Linked DNA regions of Homo sapiens: all the other regions are reported to be linked to region 2. The links are microRNA targets in miRTarBase. Many come from high-throughput screens and were not tested one by one. Region 2 holds a microRNA gene; each other region holds the end of a gene's coding sequence.
The links. Region 2 holds the annotated microRNA hsa-miR-3145-3p (AGAUAUUUUGAGUGUUUGGAAUUG, at 5,002-5,025, opposite strand). A microRNA usually pairs through its seed, bases 2 to 8, with sites in the 3' UTR of a target mRNA and lowers its output. Matches are read on the target gene's strand: a 7mer-m8 pairs with bases 2 to 8, a 7mer-A1 pairs with bases 2 to 7 and ends in A, and an 8mer does both.

Region 1 (9,671 bases), not on the chromosome of region 2:
TGTGGTCACAGCTGAATGAGCAGGACTTTACCCCCAGAAAGGGGAGAAATGGGGCTTATTCAGATGGTCCTCCCTAGATGGACAGATGAGTCCAGAGTTCCTACTGCTAGAAGTAGTTACTCTGCCTCACCTTAGAAAGGAATGGCGATGGCCGGGCACGGTGGCTCACATCCGTAATCCCAGCACTTTGGGAGGCCAAGGCGGGCGGATCACGAGGTCAGGAGATTGAGACCATCCTGGTTAACATGGTGAAACCCCATCTCTACTAAAAATACTAAAAAGTAGCCGGGCATGGTGGCGGGCCCCTGTAGTCCCAGCTACTCGGGAGGCTGAGGCGGGAGAATGGCGTGAACCTGGGAGGTGGAACTTGCAGTGAGCTGAGATCGCGCCACTGCACTCCAGCCTGGGCGACAGAGCGAGATTCCGTCTCCAAAAAAAAAAAAAAAAAAAAAAAAAATGGTGATCAGAGAGTAGGTATGGTGAGAAATGAGGGGTGGGAGCAGAATGAAAGGACATAGAGGCTGGTCCACTTGGGTTGGTAGTTAATATTAATAGTTGGGCGCACTTTTCATTTTACTGGAAACTCAAAGCATTTTCCTTTCTGTTTTGTAGGCCACGAAACTGGCTACTGCTTTCGGATGTCCTTAAGAAATTGAAAATGTCCTCCCGCATATTTCGCTGCAATTTTCCAAACGTGGAAATTGTCACCATTGCAGAGGCAGAATTTTATCGGCAGGTTTCTGCAAGTCTCTTGTTCTCTTGCTCCAAAGACCTGGAAGCCTTCAACCCTGAAAGTAAGGAGCTGTTAGATCTGGTGGAATTCACGAACGAAATTCAGACTCTGCTGGGCTCCTCTGTAGAGTGGCTCCACCCCAGTGATCTGGCCTCAGACAACTACTGGTGAGCAAGCTGGACCCACCATGTACAGTGTGTTATAGTGTTAATCCTTGTGCATATGTGTCATAATACAACTATTTCTGTAAAGAAAGGACACTATTACATATGAAAATATCTCTTCTTTATATAAGAGAAATTACTCCAGTCAGAAGGACTTAGAAACATGTTTTTTTCCTTTTAAACTTTTAAGTCAGTTTTTATGAAGTTGTTATAATGTTTCTTTACTTTTCAATGCACACATGCTTTGGGATACGTTTGTTTTTACTTGGAACATTTGTTTCTTTTCTTTTTTAAGGAGAAAAAAAAATGAGTAAAAGGAGCTCCACACTTTGACTTAATTTCATACAAAGCTCTGATGACAGGCCATGACTGTAGAGTGGTCAGAACTGTGTGGTTGGTTTGAGGGAGCGAATTCGGGGAAGGCACTTGGTGATATAACTTTGTTTTGTTTACAGAGTACCTGCTCGGGCCAGGTAAATGCTATTGGATGTAATCCAGTAGTGTGTAATATAAATTCAAACCATATCCACACACAACAACTAATTGTATGAAACTTTTATATCCTAATTTAAAAGCTGTGAAATTAGTTTTCACGCATCAAACCGGATTGTTTATATGTTTAAACATTTTATGCTCTTATTTAAAGAAGACTTTGAGCTATTTTTTTCTGTACCCTGTAAAATATTGAAAACTAACATAATATGTTGAGGTTGCTTGGAAATGTACATAAAACTAAAATTTTCTGAATCGTGTGTTTATGTTTGAAATCTGTGTTTTAACTTTGTAAGTAAATTCTCTGCCTTTGTATTTATATTTTACAAAAATTTTCTTAAAAGGCAATAAAACTGTTGAGGAAAGGAGAAAATTGAAGTACCTTGTGTCCCATGTATTCCTAAAGCATTATTGTTGTCCCTGATTCTTCTTAAATGGTGCTGGTGATGTATTCCCTATAGATAACTTTAGAGCAATTTATAGTCTCTGGAAACCAAAGCAGACTGGAGGATTTTGGAGGAGTTATACTCAGAATATAATTTGGAGTCCTATTCTGAAAGCCCAATTCTTGGACATATTTCCTGTCTCTTAGAACCTTCTCTTTCCTGTCTCCTTTGATGCTTATGGAGGCTTTTGCACTGCCTTTGGCCTTGACCTATTTCAGTCCCACGTCATGGCCAACTCTCTAGGAGTGTTTTTTCTGAAGCTAGGCATTTGTTATGTCACTTCTGCAGCCCTTCTGTTGCATGGCCTGAGAGTCAAGGCCTGTAGAGCCAGCCTTTCCTCTGTTCTTGACTTTTCCCAGCAGTATCTGCACTGGGCACTATCAGTTGGCCCTTGATTTCCATCTCACTTGCTTTTGTGCCTGTCCTTCACTATAGAGGCTAGAAAGCTGAAAACTACTTGACTCCCTTGCAGCTAGCTTTCTGAGTGCATATTCTGTTTGGAGGGCAGCATGAGGTAGGGGCACCTTCCTACTATAGTGGCTGCGGATAGGAAAATTTGAAGAGAATGCCAGCCAGTTGGAATGACTGACCAGCATTCCAGTGTCTGGTTTTCAGCTTGGTGGGTGATGAGATACAGTAGTGGTTGTGGCAGTGGCAGCTTTCTAATTCTTGGATGACAGCCTCAGCAGATTGTTCGTGAACCCTGTGGATCCAGAGTTGTCCCTGACTCCTGTTCCCCCAGCCCTTCCAAAGACCTTATTCATCTGGGTCCTTGTGTCAAATCCATTTGTGCACCGAATGCCCTCAGTGCTTTCTGATCCTGCATGGAACACTAGGACTGCGAAAGCAGAGGAAAGAGGCTGTGGGGACACTGTATTTGTCAGGCCAGCAAACACTGTGGAAGAAAAAAAAGGAAAAGTGAGGCATTGTTGGGAATGAAGAAATTCCATGTGAGGAATGCAAGAGCCCTTTTTGGGGGAAGGTTGGCTACGAATGAAGTTTGGAGTGTATCTTGAAGACAAAAGGCAGCCTACCATCTTATTTACTAATTTTTCTGATATTAGAAAATGTATACCTTATTTAAAAAACCCAATCATGTCAGAAATAGACACGTTTCCTATTATCCCCTCCCCTCCCCCACCCATGTTAACCACTATTAACAGTTTACTTAGTTTTTGTTTTACAGGAAGTCCCCTCAAATAGCTAGGGGGAGTGTTGAAGGGAAAAAAACAGACGACAAGACCAGTAAAACAGACCTGTAGAAATGATTTAAGCAGAAGAGGACTGGTGAAGCTGAACTACCATCAAAGCTACGAGAGATCCTACACACCCAGATTTAAAAAATAATAAAAACTTAAGGGCATCCGGCTCTTTGTATTGGGGTTGGAGGCAAAGGGGGAGCCCAAGGCCAACTGAGATTTTTATCTTGGATGAAGGTCATTCTGTTAATTAAGCTAGGAAAACAGGTGAGAGCCACAAGGTTAGGGTGTGCAGAAGAAGCAGCTTGGTGCAGGAGACATTTAAGGCTGTGGTTCATGCAGTTGGAGGAGCTAGTAGTCAGAACAGTTAGTGCAAGAACTGTCAGGGTGGTTGGAAACATGGACGTAGAACTGACTGGGGGTATAGATGAGATCCCCATGGCTGAGAAAGGTTTGGATGTAGAGCAATGCCCCACCCCTGCTCAGGAACTCCCCATGGGTAATAGAGCTCACCATGAACATAGAGTGGGCCACAGGTATGGGCCAGATCACACTCCACAGGGAGAGGGACGCGTCACCAGAAGGTAGGGGAGCTTATTGTGTGTTGAGAGGAACTCAGCATGGGTGTTCAAGTGCTCACCACAGGTTTGGAGCAATCATGATCTAAGGTCACCTCGGGCGTTGAAGAGCTCTCCACAGGCAAAGATGTTAACACAGGTGTAAGTGAGATCCCACTGCAGGTAGAGTGCCCATTCCAGTAGAACTCCTCCTGGGGGGAAGGGAGTGGGTGTAGAAGACACCACAGGCATAGATGAGATCGTATTGGCCGTATAGAAACACCATGGGTTTAGAAGAGCTCACCAGAGGTACAGAGCAGACCTTTATAGGCCCTCATTTGGGTGTCCAGGAACCCACCAGCAACATAGAAGAGTTTCCATGAAGGTCAACATGAGTGCAGTGGAGCTCACCACGGGTAGACAGCAGAAGTGGTTCATTCCAATTCTGAAGGTGTCCCTTAGGATCAGGACATGCTTTCCTTTGCCCTGTCCTCCCTCTTCCTGGCTAGAATGTGGCTGCTCTAGCTATAGCTGTCACAACCACCTTGGACCATGAAGTATCGAAGTCGAGCACTGCTGGACAAGTTTGAAGGAGCATGGGTCTTTGAGAATCTCCTGGAACCAAGCCACCATACCAGCCCTACCCTACCTGCCATTTACGTTAATTGATGTAATAGCAAAACACCCAAATCTCCATCAGTTGGGCACTGGTCGAGTTAACAATGGTACACCCACACAGTGGAATACTATGCAACTGGAAAAAGAATTGAGGAATAGTTCCCTAACTTGCTTTAGAGTGGTCTTCCAATTATTATTATTTTATTTTATTATTTATTATTATTATTTTTTGAGACAGTCTTGCTCTGTTGCCCAGACTTGGAGTGCAGTGGTACAACCTCTGCTCACTGCAACCTCTGCCCACTGCAACCTCTGCCTCCTGGGTTCAGGCAATTCTCCTGCCTCAGCCTCCCAAGTAGCTGGAATTATAGGCACCCGCCACCATGCCCAGCTAATTTTTATGTTTTTAGTAGAGACAGGGTTTTACCATGTTGGCCAGGCTAGTCCTGAACTCCTGGTCTCAGGTGATCCACCCAGCCTCAGCCTCCCAAAGTGCCAGGATTACAGGCGTGAGCTACCATGCCTGGCCTATTTATTTTTTTGAGACAGGGTCTCGTCTCGCTCTTGCCCAAGCTGGAGTGCAGTGGTACAATCATGGCTCACCACCGCCTCAACTCCCCAGGCTCAAGCAATCCTCCTGCCTCACCCTCCTGAATAGCTGGGACTACAGACAAGCACCACCATTCTGGGGTAATTATTTTGTTTTTTTGGAGAGATGGGAGACTTGCTGTGTTGGCCAGGCTGTTCTCCTGAGCTGAAGCGATCCACCCACCTTGGCCTCCCAAAGTGCTGGGATTACAGGAGTGAGCCACCACACCTGGCCTGAAAACATTTTTATAGTTGTTTTCAGTAATCTTATCTTTGGTAGTGTCAGTATTGTTATTCTGAGTCTGTCCTGTTTGTGTCGTGAGATAAAACAAAAGGAAATGTTGGTATTGAGAACTGGGACTTCAACATGAGAGAAAGGAGATGAAAATATAGAATTGGCAAGGTTAGATAAATTATCCAGCCCTGAACATGAATTGTAAGTATCACTATGAACTCATGATGTATTAATATTTTATCTTAGGAAAGTTTGTTTCCTAGCTCTGTCCTCTCAAAAAGCCTGGAAACAATGACTGATAGAAATGAGCACCATAGCTCCCAGCCTATGGTTTCTAAATACCTTTCCTCATTAAAAACAACTGAGCTTTATTTGAGAAATGGTTGATTCCAGTTTGGGGCAGGGAAGAATTGGAAGGGAGTATAGATATATACAAGAAGCCAGTGGGGTTGTGTCAAAAAAATTAAGCCTTCCAAAGTGCTGGGATTATAGGCCATGAGCCACAGTGCCCGGCCAAAAGTAAGTTTTATAACATATGTTGTTTAACTCCGTATATCCGAAGTATTACCATTTTGACATGCAATCAATACAGAAATCATTAACGAGACACTTTTGTTTTTTATACCAAGACTTTAGAAACTCCAATGTGTATTTTACATTTGCAGCACTTTTCAGCTTGAACTGGCCACATTGCCAAGTGCTCAGTAGCCACATGTGGCTACTGGCTACCACACTGGACAATGTAGGTCTAAGTCTACTTACCAGTTTACAAGAAATACAAGGGGCAGAGAAACACGTTAGGACACTATGGGTATGCATTCAGCAAAAGCCAAACTGTGAGACTCTATAAGACACATGGGGCTGGGCACGGTGGCTCAGGCCTGTAATCCCAGCACTTTGGGAGGCTGAGGTGGGTGGATCACCTGAGGTCAGGAGTTCAAGACCAGCCTGATCAACATGGTGAAACCCCGTCTCTATTAAAAATACAAAAAAATAAAAATAAAATTAGCCAGGCATGGTGGCGGGCGCCTGTAATCTCAGCTACTCGGGAGGCTGAGGCAGGAGAATTGCTTGAACCAGGGAAGTGGAGGTTGCAGTGAGCCGAGATCACACCACTGTACTCCAGCCTGGGCAACAAGAGCAAAAACCCATCTCAAAAAAAAAAAGACACATGGCTCAGTTTATTTAACAAATAACTTGCAAGGGGAAAAAAAACAGAGGAGGAAACCTCTAGACTAAAAGAGACAAGAGAAATACCAGCAAATGTAAAGCATGGATCTGTGAGTCTGATTTGAACAAACTATAAAAAAGAAAAAAAAATTGCAAAATTTGTAAAAACCAGGGAAATAGGAATGCTGAACATATATATATATATATATACATATATATATATATATATATATACATATATATATATATATATATATATACATATATATATATATATTTATATATATAATTTTAAAATGTGGTGTTGCTCTGTCACGGAGACTGGAGTGCAGTTGTGCAATCACAGCTCACTGCAGCCTCTACTGCCTGGTTTCCAGCAATTCCCCCACCTAAGCCTCCCAAGTAGCTGGGACCACAGGCGTGCACCACCACAACCAACTAATTTTTTTTATTTGTAGAGATAGGGTCTCTTTGTGTTGGCCAGGCTCATCTTGAACTCCTGGGCTCAAGCAATCCTCCCGCCTTGGCCTGGGATTACAGACGTGAGCCACTAAGCCTGGCCCAGAACTTTTTTTTTTTTTATTCCAAATCTTTTGGCAATGTGTGCTGAAATCTTTATGTATATGATATCTGGGATTTGCCTCAAAATCATCCCAGTGGGAGGAGAAGATGGAGATGTAGATGAAACAAGCCCCATGAGTAGGTAATTATTTTTATTTATTTTTTTTTTTTTTGAGACGGAGTCTCTCTGTCACCCAGGCTGGAGTGCAGTGGCGCAATCTTGGCTCACTGCAAGCTCCGCCTCCTGGGTTCACGCCATTCTCCTGCCTCAGCCTCCCAAGTAGCTGGGACTACAGGTGCCTGCCACCACACTCGGCTAATTTTTTGTATTTATAGTAGAGGTGGGGTTTCACCGCATTAGCCAGGATGGTCCCGATCTCCTGACCTTGTGATCTGCCTGCCTTGGCCTCCCAAAGTGCTGGGATTACAGACGTGAGCCACCGCACCTGGCCGGGCCATCAGTAGGTAATTTTTGAAGCAGGAAATGGGTACATGGAGGTCTCTGAATTGTGCACTTCTCTCTATTTTTGTGTGTGTTTGAAATTTTCTACAATAAGTTATTTTTTGAAAGAGAGCATCTCAGCCTGGGCAACCTGGGGAGACCCCATCTCTATAAAAACTTTAAAGGTTGGCCGGGCAGGGTGGCTCACGCCTGTAATCCCAGCACTTTGGGAGGCTGTGGCTGGCGGATCACTTGAGGTCAGGAGTTCGAGACCAGCCTGCCCAACATTGTGAAACCCCATCTCTACATACAAAAATTAGCCTGGCGTGGTGGTGGGTGCCTGTAATCCCAGCTATTCAGGAGGCTGAGGTGGGAGAATCACTTGAACCCAGGAGGCGAAGGTTGCAGTGAGCTGAGATCATGCCATTGCACTCCACCCTGGGTGATAAGAGCGAAACTGTGTCTCAAAACAAAACAAAACAAAAAACAAAAAACTTTTAAAAGTTATCCAGGCATGGTGGCACACACCTGTAGTCCTAGCTACTTGGGAGGCTGAGGCAGGAGGATTACTTAAGCCTCGAAGGTTGAGGCTACCGTGAGCCATGATTGCACCACTAGACTCCAGCCTGGGTGACAGAGTGAGACCCTGTCTCAAAAAAATTCAACCCAAAACAATACGTATCTTTCAGGGTTGTGAGGATTAAATGAGACCATATATGTTGAGCACCTGGCACAATGCCCAACAGGTAGTAAACACTAGATAAATATTTAGATTCTCCTTTTAAAAAAGGTCTGTACTTAAAAAGGGGGGAGTGGATTCTGAAAGGAGCTTGCCTCTGCTTGCACACAGTTTGCATATTTCTCCAAACTAGATGTGTATCCTTTCTCATCTCTACCATCTAGTGATGACTTGTTTGTTCACCAGGAAAACTGGAAAGAGGGAGAAACCTCAGTGGCAAAGGCGAGATGGGTCAGGGACGGCACAAGAATTCTCTGTGTGTTCCTATTGATATAGTTGTTTTCATTTGAACCATGTAAATGTTTAAATATTCAAGAAACCAAATTCAATAAAAATAGATGAATAAAGGCAAATATTGAAGTTGAGTGTAAACAGGAACAAATGAAACCATATCGCGTTGATAACATTACCACACAGAAAAAGAATTTGCCAAAGTAAGTTTTGAACATCCTTAGTGAAATATATTCCAAGGACAAAAATAATTGCAAAGATATCTTGGAACTTTACTCAGCAGATCTCTTGTAGTAATTCTGTATTGTATTTGTAATTGTAATTAGTAATTGTATTGTAATTCTGAAAGCCTTTTACATGCATTGTGAGATAGATGAGATGATAAATATGGTAATGGGAACCACTCTGTGAGAAGGGATATACAAACATGAAATGTGGAGAAGGGAGAAAGAAGCTTGTGATGTTGGCTACGAATTGCCAATTCAAGAGTTCAGCAAATACAATGTGGATTCCCAAGCTCTGTCTACTAAAAGGGCCTAACAAACGTTGACACCCTAGTAGCAATGAGCACATCTAGCACTAAGTTCTTGGTTTCTAAATGCCATTTCCTGCTGTCAAGAACCAGGGGCTGCCTGCAGAAAAGCTTGACCCAGAGTCTATAGCAGAGAACATACAAGGTGAGTGAGCCTAGCCAGTACTGTGACAGACTAGCTCCATATGGCACTGATAAGAAGGACCCAGCATTACCTCTACAGTGTTCTTATCAAAAATGTGCCAGTCTGGGCAACATGGCGATATCTCATCTCTACTAAAAATAGAAAAAATTAGCCGGGCATGGTGACACATGCCCATAGTATCAGCTACTGGGGAGGCTGAGCTGGGAGGATCTTTTGTGCCCAGGAGATCAAGGCTGCAGTGAACCATGATCAAATTACTGCACTCCAGCCTGGGCCACAGAGTGAGACCCTGTCTCAAAAAAAGAGAGAAAAAAAAAAAATAACTTGAATCCAATAATGAGGAAACAGACATTCTGGAAGACAAGACAACTGGCTTGGCTTTTTTTTTTTTTTTCCCCGAGACAAAGTCTCTCTCTCTTACTCAGGCTGGAGTGCAGTGGCACAATCTCGGCTCATTGCAACCTCTGCCTCCTGGGTTCAAGCAAGCACACCTGGCTAATTTTTGTATTTTTAGTAGAGAAGGGGTTTCATCATGTCGGTCAGGCTGGTCTCAAACTCCTGACCTCAAGCAATACGCCCACCTCCGCCTTTTTTTTTTTCAATCCATGTCATGAAAACAAGCAAGAGGGAATGTTCTAGATTAGGGAAGATTGAGGAGAACAAGACGATCAAATGCAATGCATGAACCTTGATAGAATCCTAGATCGGGGTAAAAATTCCTTATCAGACACTTTAGGGACTACTGGTAAAATTGGTAAAAATCAATCTTATTAAGATATAATTTATATCAAACCAAAGACACCCAGTTCTGAGTTTCGG
Region 2 (10,143 bases):
AAGTTGGTAACTTAATCTGTGTTTTAACACAGGAAGCCTACATACTGCTAGCTTTAACAGGAATCTGATCTACCTGGGTTCTTTCCACGTGTGAGCATTCAACAACCCTATCTGGTTCAGCTGCATATGGGCAGAGGGCACAGGAGAGAGAAGCCAGGAAGCCAGACTCACCTGCTCCGTCCTGTTGAGATAGGCAGCTCTCCCCATCGCCCCCAGTATCCGCACTGTTCTCGGCTGGCTCCTCCTGCTTGGGGGCTGGTGAGACATCAGGCTGAACCATGGGGACATTGGCTTCCACTCTGCTGGGAGACATGGATCCTGCAGCTCCTCCCTCAAGAACCGAGGTGCCAGGGTGCGTGGCATGAGAGCCAGCTTGGGCTGCAGAACTCTCTTTTGCCTCCCTGCTGTGCACAGAGCCCTCCTCTCCCGTCGTGGGGCTGGGCACAGCTCGGAGGGCTTCGCTCACGTTCTCTGCGGGCTCCACTGCAAAATCTTTCTGCGGAGGTGGTACCACCAGGAACAGTTTGGGCTTCTTGGAAATGGGGGGTGGCTTCCTGCTGGGTGAAGAGTCTGGGAGTGGGGTGGTGCTGGGGCTGGGCCGAGCCTCTGCCTCCCCAGCGCTTGGAGCTCCAGGGCTGCGGCTCACAGGGCCACCACGCTCAGCCGCACTGCCATGGTCACCCTGACTCGAGCTCTTGGCAGGCGTCGGAAGCGAGCTTGTCACAGAGGCAGGCTGGCTTTCACTCTCCATTTCATTTGTGCTATTTCGGGATTTCAGGAAAGCAGATGGCTTTAAGTGGTACTGTGGAGCAACTGGAGTTCGTTGTTCCTGAGCTGTTCGTTCAGACAACTGTGCCGCCTCAGCGCCTGAGTTCTTTCTCACGGGCCTCAACTGCACCATCTGCAATGCTTCCGTGGTTATCAGGGGCATGGGGGGCCTGCTGGTCTCCTCCTTGGTAGAAGGCGGCCTCAAGGATCCCCGGGAGGATTCTGGCTGGCCAGAATTTGTGAAAGGCGGCCTGGTGTCTTTCATGAATTTGGGGTCAAGAGGTGGGGCAGGTGGGGGTTCCGAGGAAGGTAAGAGAGGTGGGGGCAATGGCAAGGACACAGGTGAATCTGGAAGAATGGGGCTCAGTGCAGGGCGGGGAGGAGAAAGGCACCAATCAGGTGGGGAGCAGAAAGGAATGAGAGCTTCTGGCGGCGGAGGGGGGAACACAGGAGAGTGAGGCAGAGGAGAGCCCTGGGAGCAATCTGTGACAGGAGGTGGGGGAGGAAGGAAAGGAGACCTGTCTGCAGGACAAGGGAATGGAGGAGAGGGAACAGGAGGAGGAGGAGGAGCCGGGGGAGAGCCCACGGCTGGATCCAGCTTCTTCATAGTGCCACTTCCTTCAGTAGAAGTACTAGAAGAAAGAGAAGTGGACGATGAGGAAATGGATACTGAAGATATCAGAGAGGACTTCCTTTCTGGTACCTTGGGCTTGGGCTTCCCCTTCCCGTTTGCTGGTGACACTGATTTTAAAAACACAGGCACAGGGGTGAGTGCTGTGGGTGTATTCGACTGGCTGGAATACCCACTGGATGGAGAAATGACTCTGTGTGACTTCTCTGGTGACATGATCTTTGGTTTGACTGAACCACCGGGCACTTGGGGCATTGTGGCTCTGGACCCTTCTTGGACATGGCGGACTGGCCCGTTCCCAGTGGGCACCCCACTGCTGGTTGAACAGCCCCCTGCCGGGTTCCCCGGATCTTCCTGCATGCCCGTGTAGTCAATGTAATAACCCCAGGGGTCCGTGTACTCTGACTTGACGCTGCTTGTGTCACTCTGCGATGGCGTGGCCCCGCACAGGGAGTAGACATTGGGGGTGGTGGCGGAAGTCATGCTGCTGCCAGCACTAACTGTGCTCTGGCTCCGGGAGCGGGGCAGCCAGGGCTCTTCCAAGTCACTGCAGGGGCTCTGGGAGGGCGAGCTGCCACTCTTGCCTGGGAGGCTCAGCTGCAGCGAGTGCTGGAGTGTGGCGATCAGGCTCTCGTTGAGCACCTGCCCGTTGCACTGGCTGCTCTTCTTGGGAATCCTGCGGAGGGAGTCTGTCCGGGAGGGTGGCAGGGGAGGCTTCTTTGCTTTCTTCAAAGAGATGTTTCTTGATAGGGATTTATCCTGGTAATTGGACCGGTCCCCTTGGTTTTTCTGAGCTCTTCCAACAAAAACATTGATCACGCTGTGCCTGGGGTTCCCAAAGCCATCACTGCTATTGCACAGATTCCCAGATCCATGTCCAGAGTCAGTGTGCACAGATGCACAGTAGCCATCGTGGTCCTCAGAATACAGCGACCCAGCATCCTCTTTGTTGGACGTTTGGTCCAAACTGCAGCTGCTCATGTTACTTGTGGGAGTGGAATAGCCAGGAGTTGCTAAATGCGGCTTCAGGGGGGATGCCCTTCCATTACCTGAGGATTTGTATTCCCAGGGCTCCGAGCTGCTGTGCCCTCCGCCCCCTGAATAACTAGATTCACTCTTGCCATCCACATCTTGGGGGTGGGCTGGGAAGGCCAGGTTGTTTCTACAATTATACGGCATAGCTTGGGACCCATTCTCCCTATTTGCTGGAGCATTTAGAGGGACGGCTGAGTCACAGAGGGACAACAGTGCGGGTTCACCAGGGGAATGAGGGTCTAAGTCCTGTGAAAGAATGGTGGCATGGCCCTCATTCCAGTGGCGACCGGGAGACTGAGGATCACCTTTCACAGCATGCCTGGAGATGAGGTGGTCTCTGGATTTTATCCTTGCATGTGATGAGCCAGAACTTTTACTTTCCCGCTGTCCCGCACTCTGAGCAGTGGGAATAGCGATGACCTCGGAAGAGGAAGACAGTGTGGCATTTGGGATGATGCTGGTGGAGTAGGTTGCATGAGGAGAAACCACACACGCTGGGCTCATTATATTTTCACTCTCGAAGTGTCTCAACTCCTGGGATTTGGGTCTCAAAAGTGTTCCAGTCCCTGAGGCACCTCCTAAATGGCCTAAGTTTTCATCTGCTTGTGGGTGACCTCTCTGGTAGAGGAAAGTGCCATTCATGTCTCCTGCAGGGCCGAGGGCACCCAGCCTCGGCTCAAGGGACTGAATGTTTGCCCTTGCTCCAGAACGCGGAAGACTATGGAAGCCAGCATCACTGTCAAGGCGGGAAGGGAATACGATCCCTGCAGAATCGCTCAGCACAGACATGTTGCCAGAGGAACCTGAGAAGTGGCCCATCTGGGCAGCAATGCCTTGCCCCTTCTGTGCCCTGATTCTCCTCATGGAAGGTGGTACGACCTTCACATCCTCCGTCTGACAGCTGGAGTCCCTGGTTTCTGAGCGCTGCCCAGCAGACCGACAGCTATTGAACCTTCCTAGTGTAGAGTAGTGATCAGGGGTGTACACTGAGTGGCCATCAGCATCATCTTGGCCAGTGCCTGATGCTGGAGATAAAGCAGAAAGAGGCTTGTTACCTGAAAATAAAATCCATAGTTCATCACGTGTACCCTCACCCCTCTGACAGAATTTTAAAAAAATTTTTCTATTTGATTTAATTTCCTTTCTCCTGTAGGTATCTAAGTACATTTAAAAAGTTACTGATAGCTCTAAAATGAAAATTATTGTCATGAATGTCAGGTACTTCTCTTAATTTGTACCTCCAATCCTCCTATGGCTTGAGTGCTGCGTATGGAATTCTCAGGGTATCCCTTCAAGATCAAGGCTGCCAAGGGCTCAGAGGAGGATTTACTTTGAAATAATCACCTTTCAGTAAAGTCTTCAAGGTAGCCTTTCGCCCACTGGGTGACTGTGCAGACCATCTATCAAGCAGTGACACATCTTTCCCAAAGGTAGATGAATGTAGTAATTGAACAATAGGGCCACAGAGATACCATATTTGAGGGGTACTGGTATAAAACAGTGTTAATTACATTAATTCTTTATGTCAGAAGGAAATTCTAAGGCAAAGAAAATTGATTTACAGGCCCATCTGTGTTCCAAACATTTCATTATCCATCTGAAGCCATTATCTGTCTGTTGGTGACATTCAAAATTCAACAGCAATCTGTTGTGTTCTAGTTGGGGAAACTGGCAGGAACTGATCCAGTGAACATTTCCTCAAATTAGGATGATTTATTCGTTGGAGTTTTACAACCAAACAGAGAATAGTATGTTAAAAAAAAAAAAAGACAGAAAGAAAGAAACACAAGGAAGGGCCAACAGAGAGGGACGTGGACGAGGTAAACTTTAAGTGTAAACAGTTAGATTTCAAGCTACCCAGGAAAGAACAGAGCTTATGAGAAAAAAGAAAAAAAATCACAAAGACAAGAACCTACCCAAAGTGTACTGAGAAAAAAAAAAGTCAATCCTTAAGACAAATCGAATCTCTAAAAATAGTAGTAAAACTATAGTTCTCCCTATGTTATCTCCATCCAACAAGGACCCAAAAGTATCTATCTCAACACGGGCTTTGCTGAGCAATGCGAGTCAAGCACACCCCTCTGTGTCAGTGGACACCTGGATGCGACCCTAGGACTGATGGGGTTTCTAAGGCTTCCCTCTCCCAACACATAATCTAACCAGGGCATGGACTGGATATAGGATGCCTTTTGCTCACTCAGATAGCAGAGGGTAGTACTGAAATGGCAGCACTGTGCTTGTATCAACCTCAAAGGAGATGGCACCCTGGAAGGAAGGATCCCAGCATAAAGCCTTCTCCTTCACTGTGATGATGGAGAGGAATTTTTATACTTGTATTTTTAGCGAAGATGATCTATTTCCTCTCTCTACCCTCTTTCAAGTACTCACTCACTGAAGACAGATAGACAGACACATACACACACACGAGGCTGTCCCACACAGAGAGGGAAATGGGCAAAAGGGCAGGACAGAAGAAAAACCCACTTTGAGGAAGTGCAAAATTTTGCCATTTAGTAATTTAGAAGATGGGAAGTTGACTGGTATCGGTGTATCAGTGTATACGAGTTCAATTCCAAACACTCAAAATATCTCATTCCATTCAACAATGAGTTTTGAGTGTTTGGAGTTGAACTCATATAAACAAATACATTTTTTTTCCTTTCAAAATTGTACTAGTTTTTGCATGGAGTTAGTGGTAGATTTTTAACTGTCTTTAAGTAGCATAAACAAAATCCTGATACTTTTGGGTAGCAGTTTTAAATGTGAAACCATTCTAGGCATGTAAAAAAAAATAGAAATACAGCTATTTTATCACCCTCTAGAGCTAAGTATAACTTTCTTATTAAAACAAAAACATTTCCTAAAGACCTTAAAAAGCATATGAAAAAACTCATATATCTTATCACAAGGACCACCAAAATTCTATTCCCAAAACAGACCCTCCAATATTTTCACAGTATAAAAAGTTTCAGAATATGATAGGAAACAGATGAATGCTATAGATGCATACGTCGTTTTACTGTGCTTAGCTTTATTGTGCATTGCAGATAACTGGGGTTTTTTTTTTTGTTTTTTTGTTTTTGTTTTTTTTTTTACAAGTCGAAGGTTTGTGGCAACCCTGTGTTGAGCAAGTCTATTGATGCCATTTTTCTAACATGCTTACTGTGTGTCTGTGTGTCACGTTTTGGTAATTCTTGCAATATTTCAAACTTTTTCATTATTATTAGATCTGTTACGGTGATCTGTGACCAGTGATCTTTGATATTACTATTGTAATTGTTTTGGGGGTGCCACAAATCACACCCACATAAGATAGCAAATATAATTGATATATGTTGTGTGTGTTCTGACTGCTCCACTGACCAGCTGTTTCCCAGTTTCTCTCCCTCTTCTTGGGCTTCTCTATTCCCTGAGATACAACAATAATGAAATTAGGTCAATTAATAACCCTACAATAGCCTCTAAGGGTTCAAGCGAAAGGAAGAGTTGCATGTCTCTCACTTTAAATCAAAAGTTAGAAATGATTAAGCTTAGTGAGGAAGGCATGTCAAAAGCTAAGATAGGCCAAAAGCTAGGCCTCTTGTGCCAAACAGTTAACCGAGCTGTGACTGCAAAGGAAAAGTTCTTGAAGGAAATGAAAAGTGCTACTCCAGAACATACACAAATAAAAAAACAGCTTTATTGCTGATATGGAGAAAGTTTTAATGGTCTGGACAGAAAATCAAACCAGCCACAACATTCCCCTTAAGCCAAAGCCTAATCAAGGCCCTAACTCTCTTCAATTCTGTGAAAGCTGAGAGAGGTGAGGAAGCTATAGAAGAAGAGCTGGAAGCTAGCAGAGGTTGTTTCATGAGGTTGAAGGAAAGGAGCCATTTATATAACATAAAAGTGAAGCAGCAAATGCTGACGGAAAAGCTGCAGAAATTTATCTAGAGAATCTAGCTAGGTTAATTGATGAAGGTGGCTATACTCGACAACAGGTTTTCAATGTAGATGAAACGACCTTCTAGTGGAAGATGTCATCTAGGACTTTCAAAGCTACAAGAGGAGGAGTCAATGCCTGTCTTCAAAGCTTCAAAGGACAAATTGACTCTTGTTACAGCCAAAGTAGCTGGTGACTTTAAGTTGAAGCCAATGCTCTTTTACCATTCTGAAAATCCTGGAGTCCTTAAGAATTATGCTAAATAGAGTCTGCCTGTGCTCTGTAAATGGAACAACAAAGCCTGGATGACAGCATGTCAGCTTACAGCATGATTTACTGAATACTTTTAAGTCCACAGTTGAGATCTACTGCTCAGAAAAAAAAAGATTTCTTTCATTTACAGTGCACCTAGGCCAGGGGGCAGTGGCTCACACCTGTAATCCCAACACTTTGGGAGGCCAAGGCAGGCAGATCACCTGAGGTCAGGAGTTCGAGACCAGCCTGAACAACATAAAGAAACCCTGTCTCTACTAAAAATACAAAAAAATTAGCCAGGCGTGGTGGCACATGCCTATAATCCCAGCTATTCAGGAGGCTGAGGCAGGAGAATAGCTTGAACCCAGGAGGCGGAGGTTGCAGTGAGCTGAGATCGCGCCATTGCACTCCAGCCTGGGCAACAAGAGTGAAACTCTGTCTCAAAAAAAAAAAATACACAAATGTATATATATATATATATATATATACACACACACATATATATATATACACATATATATATACACATATATATATATACACATATATATATACACATATATATATATATACACACATATACACACACACACACACACACACACACACACACAAAAAAAAAAAAAAAAAATACAATGCACCTAGTCACCCCAGAGCTCTGATGAAGATGTACAAAGTTTTCATGCCTGTTAACACAACATTCATTCTGCAGCCCATGGCTTAAAGAGTAATTTTGACTTTCAAGTCTTAATTTTGTAATGCATTTTGTAAGGCCAAAGCTGCCACAGATAGTGATTCCTCTGATAGATCTGAGCAAAGTAAGTTGGAAACCTGAAAAGGATTCACTACTCTAGCACAGTAAGAACAATTTTAATTCATGGGAGAAGGTCAAAATATCAACATTAGTAAGAGTCTGGAAGAAACTGATTCCAGCTCTCGTAGATAACTTTTGAGAGGATCAAGACTGAAGTGAAGGAAGTGACTCCAGATGTGGTAGAAACAGCAAGGAACTAGAGTTAGAAGTGGAGCCTGAAGATGTGGCTGAATTGCTGCAATTTCATGATCAAACTTGAACAACGAGGCATTGCTTCTTACAGATGAGCAATGAAAATGCTTTCTTGAGATGGACTCTACTAGTGAAGATGCTGTGAACATTGTTAAAATGACAACAAAGGATTCAGAATATTATATGAACTTAGTTGATAAAGCAGCAGCAGGGTTTGAGAGATTGACTCAAATTTTTAAAGTAGTTCTACTGTCGGTAAAATGTTAATAAACAGTATTACGTGCTACAGAGAAATCTTTCAAGAAAGGAAGGATCTGTCAGTGTGGCAAATGTCACTGTTGTCTTATTTTAGGAAACTGCCACAGTCATTCCTACCTTCAGCAACCACCACCCTGATCAGTCAGCAGCCATCAAATTTGAGGTAAGACCCTTCACCAGCAAAAAGATGACAACTGTCTGTAGGCTCAGATGATCCTTTGTATTTTTTAGCAATCAGGTATTTTTACACTGTACATTTTTTTTTAACATAATGCTATTGCAAACTTAGTAGACCACAGCACAGTGTAAACATAACTTTTATAGGCACTGGAAACCAAAAAATTCGTGTGACTTGCTGTATTGCAATATTCACTTTATTGTAGTGGTCTGGAACTATAGCTGCAATAACCCTGAGGTATGTCTTTACAGATTAAAGGATGGAACAAACTACAAAAAGACAACTACAAACAAGTGTAGACCACTTAGGTGCTGCTCAAACTTGATGGGATTTATCTGATTTTAAGACATAATGTACAGAAATAATTATTTATACTTTTTCTTTTATTAATAATATTTTGAATTTCTAAAAAATATATGTAATTAAGGATGCTGAATATTTACAAGTTAGTTTATTTAAGGATTAGGCTATGAGTTTTTAAAAAGTCTTGTCAAGTAGATAGTTTCTTAGTATAAACTACCAAAAATTATTAATAAAGGGATTCCTTTAGATGAGGCCTTTTCTGCTTAGAGAATATGTATGGGGATAAGTTCAGTAGCCAAGTGTTATATATATATATCAACAAAATAATCCTATCTGATTCTAAAAGATGAAACCTCATAAGATGATGTTCAGATACATTTCTGTACAGATTTAAGATAAAAGAAAAAATTCAAAATGTCCAATTCACTGAAACGAAAGGCAACAAATTTTAGTTTATCAGATAAGTTTTGGAAATAAGCATTAAATATCATACCTTGATTTTAAAGTGTTATATATTGGCTAGTCTCCAGAGTCTATTATTTGTGGATTTTGAAATAAAAACTGCATATAATTAAGGATAATATAAATCCTTTCTAATTCATGGAAGTACCTCTCTGGTTAGATTTTTTTAAAAATCCAAAGCCGCTGGCAACTTGGGCAACATCTTTTGGACAGGGTGCATCTTTCCCAGTGAATGCCTTTCCTTTGGGACATCATTTTCTTTTTTGTCTAATTTGTTTGTTATACTTCCCTTGTGTGTCTTATATCTAGAAGAAGACTAATTTTAAAGAAAATATAAAGTGTCTATTTTTGATCATCATTACCTAGGTATGATTTGATAATCATTACCTAGATATACTACCTTGGTAGTTTAAGACTTCCAAACCAGAGTCCTTATAAGTGTAAAATACTGGGAAAAAAGGCAAGATCAACCAGAAGTCCTGAAAGGACAGAACAAATAAATATGTAATCCAATATTTTTGCTAAATAAAACTGTATACAAATGTTAACTCCTCATTCTATCCAGTAATCCTCCAACTAGCCTATCTATAAAACCACAGTCCTTGTCTAATTATCTTTTTTGTTTTAAAAAAACTAGCTCTTAGATACGGTTGTCTCAGTTGACCTCCAGTTCTAATCCAGGTCATGTCATCGACCGTAATGATATTGACTGTCTCGTGTCTGGCAACAGTCACAACCCAGATGATGCGGGGAAAGCTATTTTCTTCCCTCCAGCATTAGTGACGTTCCATGTCACATGTAAAAGAAATGAACGTGGATTCCAGAGATTTTAATCACTGATTTAAAAAATACTAAAATTACAAAAGATATGATTTATCTAGCTGGCCAGAACATTCTAGTAAGATCAAAGAAACAACTGAGTTATTGGCTTCCATACTGGTTGGTTCAGTAATAAAAGTGATAAAAATTTGTAACTCTCATTCTAGACATCATATTACATATGCATACAGACAATGCATATGGAATACTTATGTGTATGTGCATCTTTACTTGGGCCACACTATCCTTCTGATCTTACAAAGGGCCTAAATGCCTGTCTTTAAAGTCACTCCTTGAAGTCACATCTCCTAAAAAGACCAGTTAAAGTATAAATGTTGCTGGAATGCTTTAGGAAATTACTCCATTAACTATCTACTGAACATATGAGTACAGATTAGTTTCCGAATTAGTTAGCTGTCACTTCAAGAATGGAAAAAAGAGTCTGAAAGAATAAGGCATAAACTGAGAGGAGAGAGAGAAAGCACACATGTTTCCTTAAGGTAGGT
Region 3 (10,143 bases), not on the chromosome of region 2:
GATGCTGAGGAGAAGGAGTCATGCAAGTGATAGGTCTTGCTTGAGGTGGTGGGAGTGCAGAGGTCAGAATCATGTGCTGTGGCTTGTCACTTTCCAGTGTTGTTCTGAGTTCATGCCTTCTGCTGTAACACATCCAATTACAATGAGGACCTTAGTTTATTTTTATTTTTTTTTATTTTTAGAGACAGGGTCTCACTATGTTGCCCAGGCTGGCCTTGAAATCCTGGGCTCAAGCGAAATCCCTCCCTCAGCCTGAGCTGCTGGACTCCAGGTGGGCACCATTGCGCCCAGTTTAGAACTTTAATTGTTTAATGTTTTGTTGGCAGCTTAGGAGTTTTTATAACATGGTGCTTTCTTTCTTTAAGTTCTACCTGTATTACAGAACTTGTCAGATTTTACTAAGATAAGCAATTTACTGAAAAGTGCCTCACTAACATATTTACAGCTCAGAGGACAGGAACTTGGGAAAGTTCTGTGCTCATGGCTATGTTTGCGCAAAGCAACATTACCTAGAGCAGGATGACACTGGCCTTCGTCATAATTAATGTTTAACCAGATGTGTGTGTGTGTGTGTGTGTGTGTGTGTGTGTGTGTGTGTGTGTGTGTGTGTGTTTGAGACAGAGTCTTGCTCTGTCATCCAGGCTAGAGTGCAGTGGCGCCATCTCGGCTCACTGCAACCTCCGCCTCCCAGGTTCAAGCTATTCTCCTTCCTCGCCTCCCAGCTAGCTGGGATTACAGGCTTGTGCCACCGTGCCAGCTAATTTTTCGATTTTTAGTAGAGGTAGGGTTTCACCATCTTGGCCAGGCTGGTCTCGAACTCCTGAGCTCGTGATCCACCCGCCTTGGCCTCCCAAAGTGCTGGGATTACAGCTGTGAGCCACTGCGCCTGGCCAACCAGATCTGGTTTTTAAACAGAACTTATTTTCTGATTCTAAAACTTTAATATTCTTGCAGAAAATTTGGAAAAGAAGAGTAAATAAGGGAAAAAAGCCCTTATGATCCATTTTCCACATATAACATCTTTATTAATACTGTGGTGTGTATTCTTTCAGTCTTTGTTCAGTGTTTAACGTCTAAAATTTCATTCATTCTGAGATAAGCATTTCTTTTCACATTTACATCTCTGAAAGTCGGATGTTTTATAATTGGCTTTTTGTGGTTTAATTGGCAGAATGTTTTCTTAGAGGAACATAAAATGACATTTCTTACAGTTAATGGCATCTTATTTTGATGAAATGTGGAATACATTTTATTTGTAATCATAGTTTATGTACATTTTTGTGTTCTATTTCAACCAGCATGCATCCATTTTCCAATGTTATAAAAGTTCCTCAAAAACCTTTTAGAGGCTGTGTACTTCCTTGTATAAATATAGCACAGTATATTTAATATTTAATTGTTTTTGAATAGTTTATCCCCTGCTTTTTTGCCTGTCTCCAGTTCTACAGTGAAAATTTTTGTACATAAATTTTTATCTAGTTACAGCTTCATTTTTCAGCCTGGGTTCCTAGAAGTGAGATTACTGAATCAAGACAATGATAATTTTATTATTTTTGGTGTATAATACCAAGTGGCTTTTCCAGTAGGTTATCTGCCAGTTTACAAAGAGCACAGGTTTTCAGAAACTGTAGTGCTCAACAGAGAAGCCGTCTCTTGGTGTCCCCCAAAGGAGATGCTCACACCATCCTAAAGGGCCAGTTCCTCTTCTTTGCCTCTTCACATCTAACATTCAATTTCAGCAAAAAGTGGATGACTGTGAGCGGTGCCGGGAATTTTTCAACAAAGAAGGGCGTGTAAAAGGCATAAGCTCAACCAAGGAGGTTTTAGATGAGGACACGGATGAAGAGAAAGAGACGCTCAAGAACCAGCTGAGAGAAATGGAGCTAGAACTGGCACAGACCAAACTCCAGCTGGTGGAGGCCGAGTGTAAGATACAGGTAACAGCAGCAGAGCTCAGACATGTGCCTGCGGGCTGGGTTTCCTGATGTGCACTAGAGACCCCAGAAATTATCTTTATGGTTTGGGGTTTTTCCACACCTTTTAAACTTTGGTCACAGTTGTCATGAGAAGAAATATAGGACTTGTTACTGGCCAGTGGATGTCTCATCAGTATTTGGCCTGTCTTGAGGATTTCCGCTGTCATATTGAGAATAATACACAAAAGCTTGGAATCTTTTGATGGGATGAGAAGACAGTGCTTTAGAAACACAGCTCTACCACTGAACTGTTTGACCTTGGGTTAGTAACCTCCCTACATCTCAGGTTCCTTATCTACAAATGGAAATGATGAGAGTCCCTATCTGATAGGTTGGTTTGAGGACTAAGTAAGATAGTGTGCACAAATGGCTTGGCAGAATGTCGGGGGCTTTATAAATGCAAGCTTTTGTTCTTCCAGTTCCCACCACTTAACTAGCTTTGTGACTGTTAATATACTACCTATCTGAGCCTCCTTTCCTGATAAAGAAGTTAGGGCTTGTTTTGGTCATCTTAATACACATTGCTAGGTCCACCAGCACCACTAAACCCTAAGCACTGTTTATGGAGGGAACAAGTTCAGGATAAAAGCTTTAGGGCTGATTCTCCCTCATGGCACACATTCACTGGGCATCTGCTCTTTGGCAGGCCCTGTTATAGGTCTGGGACTGCAAAGCTAAGGCCTGGTAGTGTGACTACCCGGAATAATCAGGAAAGGCATCACCAAGGCAGCAGTAGCTGTGCTGTGATCAAAGAATGCACAGGGCTTGTAGCTACAGGAGAGAGAGAACAGTGGCAATTCCAGGCAGAGGGAGTGGCATGTTCAGCAGCACAAGGAGGAGAGTGGCTGCCCAGGAAGGACCCTCAGGAGTTCTTTCCTTGCAGTAGGGGATGGAGGTGGTGCTAAGGCTGGAAGAGAGTGTGTGGATCCAGATTGCGAAGCATTTCAAATGCCATGCTAGGGAGTTTAAAGATTTTTGCCAAAATGAAATGATGTCACCAGAAATAGAGCATTACCTGTCTGCCTGGTGTGCATTAGGTGGACAGAAGAGGGAGACATAGCAAGTAGAAGACTGTTTTAATAAATAGACCAGGCAAGAAATTAGATCTTAACTAAAAGCTCCCAAATCTTTAGGCATTTCAGGCATTTCTATGCCAGTTGGAGACTGGGGGAATTCCCCGAGGCCTCTCCAGAGTAAATAGACTGCATTCTTGTCTTGGTTCTCCTCTGGGGAGCCAGTGTCATTGACACCAAGCCCAGCATCCTCATGCACACTGTTCCTCTTGCAGGACTTGGAACACCATTTAGGGCTTGCCCTCAATGAGGTGCAGGCAGCCAAGAAGACGTGGTTTAACCGAACACTGAGCTCCATAAAGACAGCAACCGGGGTTCAAGGGAAAGAGACTTGCTGAGAGCAGCTGCCGCCTCCCGACACCTTCAGAAAACACGACACCTTTTGTTGCCTTCTTTGGCCAGATGTGTGATTCTGTGACTTGTCCCAGGACCAGAATGTACCTAAGTCAGATCCATAGACGCATGTTGGTAGGTCACTGGACCAGAGCTTGTGAAGCAGGCAACCTCTGGGGTAAGACTACTGATACTAACAGGCCTGCTAGCTCAGCCGACGCTCTGGACACTCTAGAAATCACTCCTCAGTGTGACCTCCCAGGCCTCTTCCCCGTGTACGTCAACACCTCACCCAGCCTAAAGGCTGAGTTTACATGATCAGAGTTAGGGGATCCTTCAGTCTGTTGATTTTTTTTCTAAACCTTTTTTTTTTAATATACATATATATATATATATATATATATATATATATATATATATATATATATAGTGGGGGTGGGGCAAGGGATCAGAAATTCAAATAATTCTTTTCTGCTTCAATGCCAGCAGAAGGTCCCCCAGGTAGACATGGAGAAGCACTTTGTTTTAAATAGGAGGGTTTCATAGTTGCATCTGAAGCCACCTGGTTCTGTTAAACTGTATGGTGCAGGTTTTGGGTTTGGCATTATTCATGTTTCTGATCAATTCTATGCAACTCTCATAGTTCCTGTTACTTTTTAGCATTAGCTGCCAAATGACTTCAAAAGGCTGGGGTGGGTGACTTGACTGTGAGACTGGATTATAACATGGACAAATCTTATTTTGCTTAATGTGTTTGTGTGTGTGTGTGTGTGTGTGTGTGTGTGTGTATGTATATATATATATAAATATCTTTCCCAATATGCCCCGTTGACAGTGTTTAAATTCCAGACTAGGACTGCTGATCTGCACAATTTAATTATGTGGTTATTCGAGCACTTAATTTCACTCAAGGTTCATTGGGCTCTGCTCTCCTCCCTGCCATTACGGGAGCTGTGGACAGAGCTCCCTCACTTCAAGATTCCTAGTGTTTTTGCACAACAGGTTGTCCAAGTGAGAAAGACTGAGTTGCGTGTCTGTAAATGTCTGCGCAGGGTGCACATGCTGCGAGGTCTCCATCCTCCGGGCCTGTCCCTCCCAGATGGGCTGGGCCTTTGGGCCCTCCTCAGAGTATGCCTGGGTACAAACCTCACTGTTCAGATGGGCTGTAAGTTCTCACTTCAAAGCTATGGAATGGATTTTAGCACCTTTAAAAAAAAAAAAAACTTTGACTTTTAATTTATATAGTGATATGCTGACAGGCTGACACGCAGATGGTTTTGTCCTCTTTTCTGCGTTCAGTGTTGAGGCGGCTGCTTACAAGAGGCACTGGTTTTGTATATAAAGACACTCGGGTTGTTTTGTAGCTCTTTTTCTTATTGGCTGTACTAACGCTTGCTGAGGTTATCTGTAATAAGGGAGGTAACAAGTGGCAACCCCCTCCCCACCAACCATCCCCTTTGCTGCTTTCTGTGTCTTTCTTGTTCAGTTACCAAAATAGCTGTAAGCCTATCTAATGCTAGGTGTGTGGACATTGTGCTAAGGTAGTTTCAGTGTGTCAACTTTATGAATTGAAATATAAACCAGTAAAATTGTATTACTGTTTCTTTTGTTGGTTTTATTTTAACAGCATATTGATTAAATATTTTGGTACAAACAAACAGCATTGCTTTGTAAAAACCAGTTTTGTCATCACCTACTCCTGTCGCCTCCCCTTCTTCCCTCATCCCCTGCGCACAGAAGCAGTCAGAGAAGACCACTGTGTGTGCTGTAAGAGAGGCATGTGTGAGCGCGAGGCAGCCCCTCACCCACCTGTTGAGACGTATGGAGTGGTAGGGTGTGGCAGGCCACATGGGGCAAGATGACGACGTTGATGCCTCTGTGTTTGTTTATGATGAACATTGCCCCTCTGAGAAATAACATGCTGTAGTAGCAGGGATGAGGGACACTTGGTGTTTTTGAGGCTTAAGGAAGCCTTACAGGAGGTAAGGGTCAAATTAGACCTTCAAAGGCAAAAGCATCTCACCAGGCAGAGATGGAAGAGGGAATTCCAGGGCCAAAGTGTGCATGTGCAGGGGAAACAGCTGAAGAGTAGAAAGGCAGGCTGAGCACCTGGGGGCCGGCTGTGGTCTGCTAAAAGCTTTAAAAGCAGTGACATGGAGTTGTCATCATCTTTTCAGAGCCTCTTTCTTCCTATCGCCTGTCCTCCACATCCCTGCACCATACAGATGAGGCTCCCAGGCCTTCTGCTGCCCCTCTTCACCACCTCAACCCCCTTCTCCATAGCAGGAAGAAGAACGAAGCTTCCCTAATCTTACGGTTCCCCCTTCCCGCTTGACCTGCCCTCTAGGACCCCACCTATGCCTAGCCTTTAAATGGATGCAGGCTGAACAGACCATAGCTTCATGCCTGCAAGAAGGATGACTGGATGGATGGCTGGATGGACAGACAGACAGATAAATGTAGATTAGATAGATAAAGTAGATGATAGATAAAATAATAGATAGATGAGATAGATAAGATGGATAGATAGATGATAGATCGATAGATATAGATAGATAGATAGATAGATAGATAGATAGATAGGGATAGAGATACAGATTAGACAGAGAGCAGGTGGGCCCCTGCCCTGTCTGTCTGTCTTTCTCCACTGCAACGAAACTAGGAAAGTTCCTAGCATAGGGCTCAGCCCCTGGCAGGTACTCTTGCAGAAGCCAGGACTGTGGCTCCAGAGCACAGCTAGGTCCCTTTGATGCTCACAGGCTGCAGGCTGGAGGACATGTTTCTGGGATCCACATTCTGGATCAGCCTGCTCCATGCTTTTCCTGTCCCATGGCTTCTGTGTTCAGTAGGGCAGGGACTCAGCAGAATCCTCATCCCTGTAGCTGCGTACTGGCCCAAGAAAAGGAGTCCATATACTATTTAGTCTTGGCACACAGGCCTCAAACGACTCGGATGAGGGTTCTGCTTTTGGGGAGGTCCCCTGGTTATGTTGAGGCTGAGACTGAGAATAATGTGACACCGTATGGTAAGTCGTGTACAGGTGCATGGGATCCTGTGGGAAGGTTATGTATAAATGCAGGAGGGACAAAGTGGTAGTGACAGTTGTGACTGACAACTAAGGGACTTGCTAGCTAGGCAGAGGAGCAGCAAGAGGACAGCGGCATTTAGGTGGGAAGAATAGTAGTAAAGTCGGCTTGAGGTGGGGTGATGAGAGATGAAACTGGGTAATTAGGTTGCGGCCATGCCAGGGAGTTTGGAGCTGATAAGGAGTCACTGGAGAGTTTTAACCCATTTATGCCAGAGGTTACAAATTTTTTTGTGTGAAAAATCAGACCTTGGCGATGACCTTAAGCAGTAGGATATAAATAACTCCCACAAGCTTAGCGTTCCAATAATGGAACACTAGGCATAAATGGGTTAAGCTAACTTGCACTTTGAGTGGTTCCCTGCTGATCCTTTAGGAAGAAAAATCGGGAGGAGAAGAAATTAAGGGTGTGAGCAGAGGTGACAGATGATAGAATAAGGAATGGAGAACGGAGTCAGTGAAATTTAGGGAGAGTGACGACACACCAGGAAGATGATAAATTTAGCTGTCGGGGTATAGATTTGAAATAGTCTGGGACTTGCAGGTTGGAGATGCTGGCAATCTACAGCTGCTCAGTTGTTGGTTTGGCATCTCTAGCGCAGGGTTTCTGGACCTCATTGTTGATGATTTGGCTGATTGATACTTTTGTGCTGTAGGGGGTCTGTCCTGTGTAATCCCAGCAGCATCCCTGGCCTCTATCCACTGGATGCTAGTGCATTACCCCACGCCAAGTGGCACAACCAAAAACGTCTTCAGGTATTGCCGAATATTCCCTGAGGGGGCCAAATCACCCTTGATTGATTGAGAACCATTGCTCGAGCAAGCTGAAGCTAGGAGCCTGGAGAGACTGCCTAGATAATGTACAGCTTAAACAAGGGCTAGGAGCCGCCATTCAAGGAGCAGGAGAGAAGACATGGAGAATGGAGCATAGACGGCCAGAGAGGAGCAAGAGCTACCTTGGGGTGGGGATGAGGGCAGGACTGGAAAAGCTTCATTGGATTTGGGAGCTGGAAGGTTGTTAGGGCAGTGGCCACTACAGTTGAGATGATGGGAGGGCAGGAGGCAGAGACAAGCAAGTATAGATTTTAAGAAGCCTGGCTGTGAGGGAAGTGGGCAAGCAAGGCCAGTGGTCAGAGGGGACTGTGGCAGGAAGAGCAGTTGTGCTGGGCCACTCAGACTGTGGTTCCAACCTTGGGCACCTGTTGTCTCCTGCTCACGAGGTCGGCAAGCATGCAGCACAGGCTGAGTGGACCTTCTTTGGCAGGCCCTGCTGCAAACCAAGCTGATTTCCAGGGCCTTGATAATTCTCAGTGGGGAGGCAGCGGCTCAGACCGAATGGCAGGAGCTATCAGCCCCAAAGTGTCTGCACCTCTTCTGAATTCCAAGTCAAGTCCCAGGGGCAGGGGCTGAGTAGTGAGGGGGGTGAAGAAGAGAGCCACCGGCTACCCGAATAAGCCCAGAACACAACTCCCATGTTTGAGCTGACCCATCAGTTGTGAAAACCAGAGCCCATGCAGAGGGGAGCGCAATGGGTGACATGGGCCCCTTGTGGCCTTGGAGAGTCACTTCACCGCTCAGAGACATGCCTGATTCTGACATTGGGATTTAAATCCTCTTCTAAGATTCATTTGGGGGGTGATGAAAGAACAGGAACGCTGGAGCAGGCAGATATGAGGACTGGAGCCGCCCAGAATGGGCACTGAGGCACTCCCAGAACAACAGACATGAGTGCTGAGTTCTCTGCCCTCCACATTTGATTGATTGATTGATAGGTGAAGAGAGATGGGCTCAGAGAGACGGCTGGGATGTTGACTCGTACTTCTGTCAGTAACCAGCAGGGTGGCTGCTTAAAGATGACCGTGTGGAAGCAGGTAGGTGTAAACCGTCACAGCATTGTACTGCAAGCAACACACACAGAAACTCAGGGTTCAAGGCCAGGCCATACCCTTGGACGTACATTTCACTTAACCTTCCTGAGTTCTGATCTGTGCAGTGGGTCTGGTGCCTGGCTCGTCAGGGCTGCTGGGTTCTCCTGTGACGCCCTTGGCTCTTTTCCTGTATTCTTCTCCCTCCAGTCATCAGAACACCCCTGAGTTCAGTGATGTTATTCCCAAATTTGAAAGTGAAGGTGAAAAGTCTGCCTGTGACCACACCATCGGGGAGTTAGTTTTCCTACCACATACCACCACCTTCACCTTCTCTTCCAGGGCCCAAGAGCAAGAAAGACAATGCTCCCTCCCTCCCCCTCTCCCAGTTCCACCTCAACAACCTGTCTCCTGTGCAGCTGAGGCCTGTGGCAATTGTGAACAAGAAAGCCTAGCCGTCCCTCAATCTCAGAAAGGCCAACCTGGGAATGAGGATGGGAACAGCAGAGAGCTGGCCCGGGCGGCTCTTCTTTCTTTCAGTCAATTCTTGCGTCGTCGTAGATCCAGCCTGATGATGTATAGGGAGAAGGCGGGGCCCTGAGTTCTAAAGTGAGGCAAACACAGCCGGCGCCATTGCCCACACAACTCTCCACTTACCTGGAGGCAGCAGCAGCAGCAGCAGCCCCTGGCCCGATTCCCCACCAGGACACTTCCCTGGGCTACCGGACCTTCTTCATCCTCGTCCTTCCAAGTGGACTGGGACTACATTGTGGTCTTGAGCTCTCAGTTACTAGGGCAGCTCAACTGCAGAAGCCTTGCAGAAAAGCAGGCAGCAGGAAGAAGAGCCTTAGCTTTGGGTTCCAATTGCTGCCGCCCTCTAGAAGCTCGACACCATTGGGCAGGGTCCTTTAACCCTGAGCCTCGGTTTCCGATCTGTATTGTCTGTCTGGGTATTACTGACCCCGCGAACAGGTGTGACGATTAAGAGGTCAGCACTCACTCAACATGACATCACTTACCACTCACTGTGCCAGGGTGCCAGGTTCATGTTTCATGTTGAGGAAACTTCACACCACAGAGAGGCAGGGTTTTAAGGACCATAACGGGATCATGAATTAGGCCCTGGCCCCACCCAAATCACTGTCCATTATCAGGAGCCATCCACCCCCCTTCAAACATCCTCGGCCCCTCCATCCCTTTGCATGAAGGGAAGAACCTGTAACATGTACTGAACTAGAGCCTTAAGGGCCAGGAAAAGGGAGCCTGCACTTGAACCTTTCACCAAAGCTGTATCCTTCATTTTATCAGTGGGTCTTGCACAGAACAATCCATTACTGTGTGTGACAGAAGCATTTGTTTGTTTTTATTTATCCAAATGGGGAGAATGCAACATGTCAGGGCATTACAGACAAACTGCAGCAGCCAGACAAGAGGGTCAGTCTATGGCAGAGTCCAACATACTCAGTGCGAAGGAGCCACAGTGCGGGTGCTGCCTGGAGGACTTGTGGCAGCAGGGTCCCTTTGGATGAAGGCCAGGTATCTCTGGGCGAGGCACTGATGACCATCCACATGTGCAGGCTGCTGCTTCAGTCACGCTGAAGGTTTAAAGTTCAGAGTCCTACATGTAATAATTGCCTCAGAGGGGAAGGGCAGTCCATGGTGGTCACGGTTTCCAGTGTTTTTAAACATAATACACAAAGTTATTGCCAAGGATTTTGCACTGCAAATTATACTATTTACACTTGCGTATTCAGAAAAACACAGTAAATAGATACATGATAGATATTTTAAATAGATTTCTAAAAACCAAC

Region 1: miRTarBase lists BCOR as a target of hsa-miR-3145-3p. Seed matches in the 3' UTR shown: 7mer-m8 at 1,007-1,013.
Region 3: the mRNA of RABGAP1 is a reported target of hsa-miR-3145-3p. Seed matches in the 3' UTR shown: 7mer-m8 at 4,187-4,193.

The regions. Positions count from the first base shown.
Region 1 is chrX:40,043,342-40,053,012 of GRCh38, reverse strand. BCOR (BCL6 corepressor) reads left to right here. Exons shown (of 15, transcript NM_001123385.2): 15 at 613-1,762. The coding sequence ends at 904. Among named protein-coding and RNA genes, the nearest start is that of LINC03053, 39 kb to the right of the region's middle.
Region 2 is chr6:138,430,222-138,440,364 of GRCh38, forward strand. MIR3145 (microRNA 3145) reads right to left here and starts at 5,073; the gene lies at 4,992-5,073. NHSL1 (NHS like 1) reads right to left here. Exons shown (of 8, transcript NM_001144060.2): 6 at 172-3,459. RefSeq lists enhancers at 1-464, 465-964.
Region 3 is chr9:123,099,827-123,109,969 of GRCh38, forward strand. It overlaps RABGAP1 (RAB GTPase activating protein 1), which reads left to right. Exons shown (of 26, transcript NM_012197.4): 25 at 1,740-1,937; 26 at 3,265-5,040. The coding sequence ends at 3,387. It overlaps MIR600HG (MIR600 host gene), which reads right to left. Exons shown (of 1, transcript NR_026677.1): 1 at 9,668-10,143. It also overlaps a transcript of STRBP not described here. Among named protein-coding and RNA genes, the nearest start is that of MIR600, 6.7 kb to the right of the region's middle. RefSeq lists a silencer at 2,744-3,038.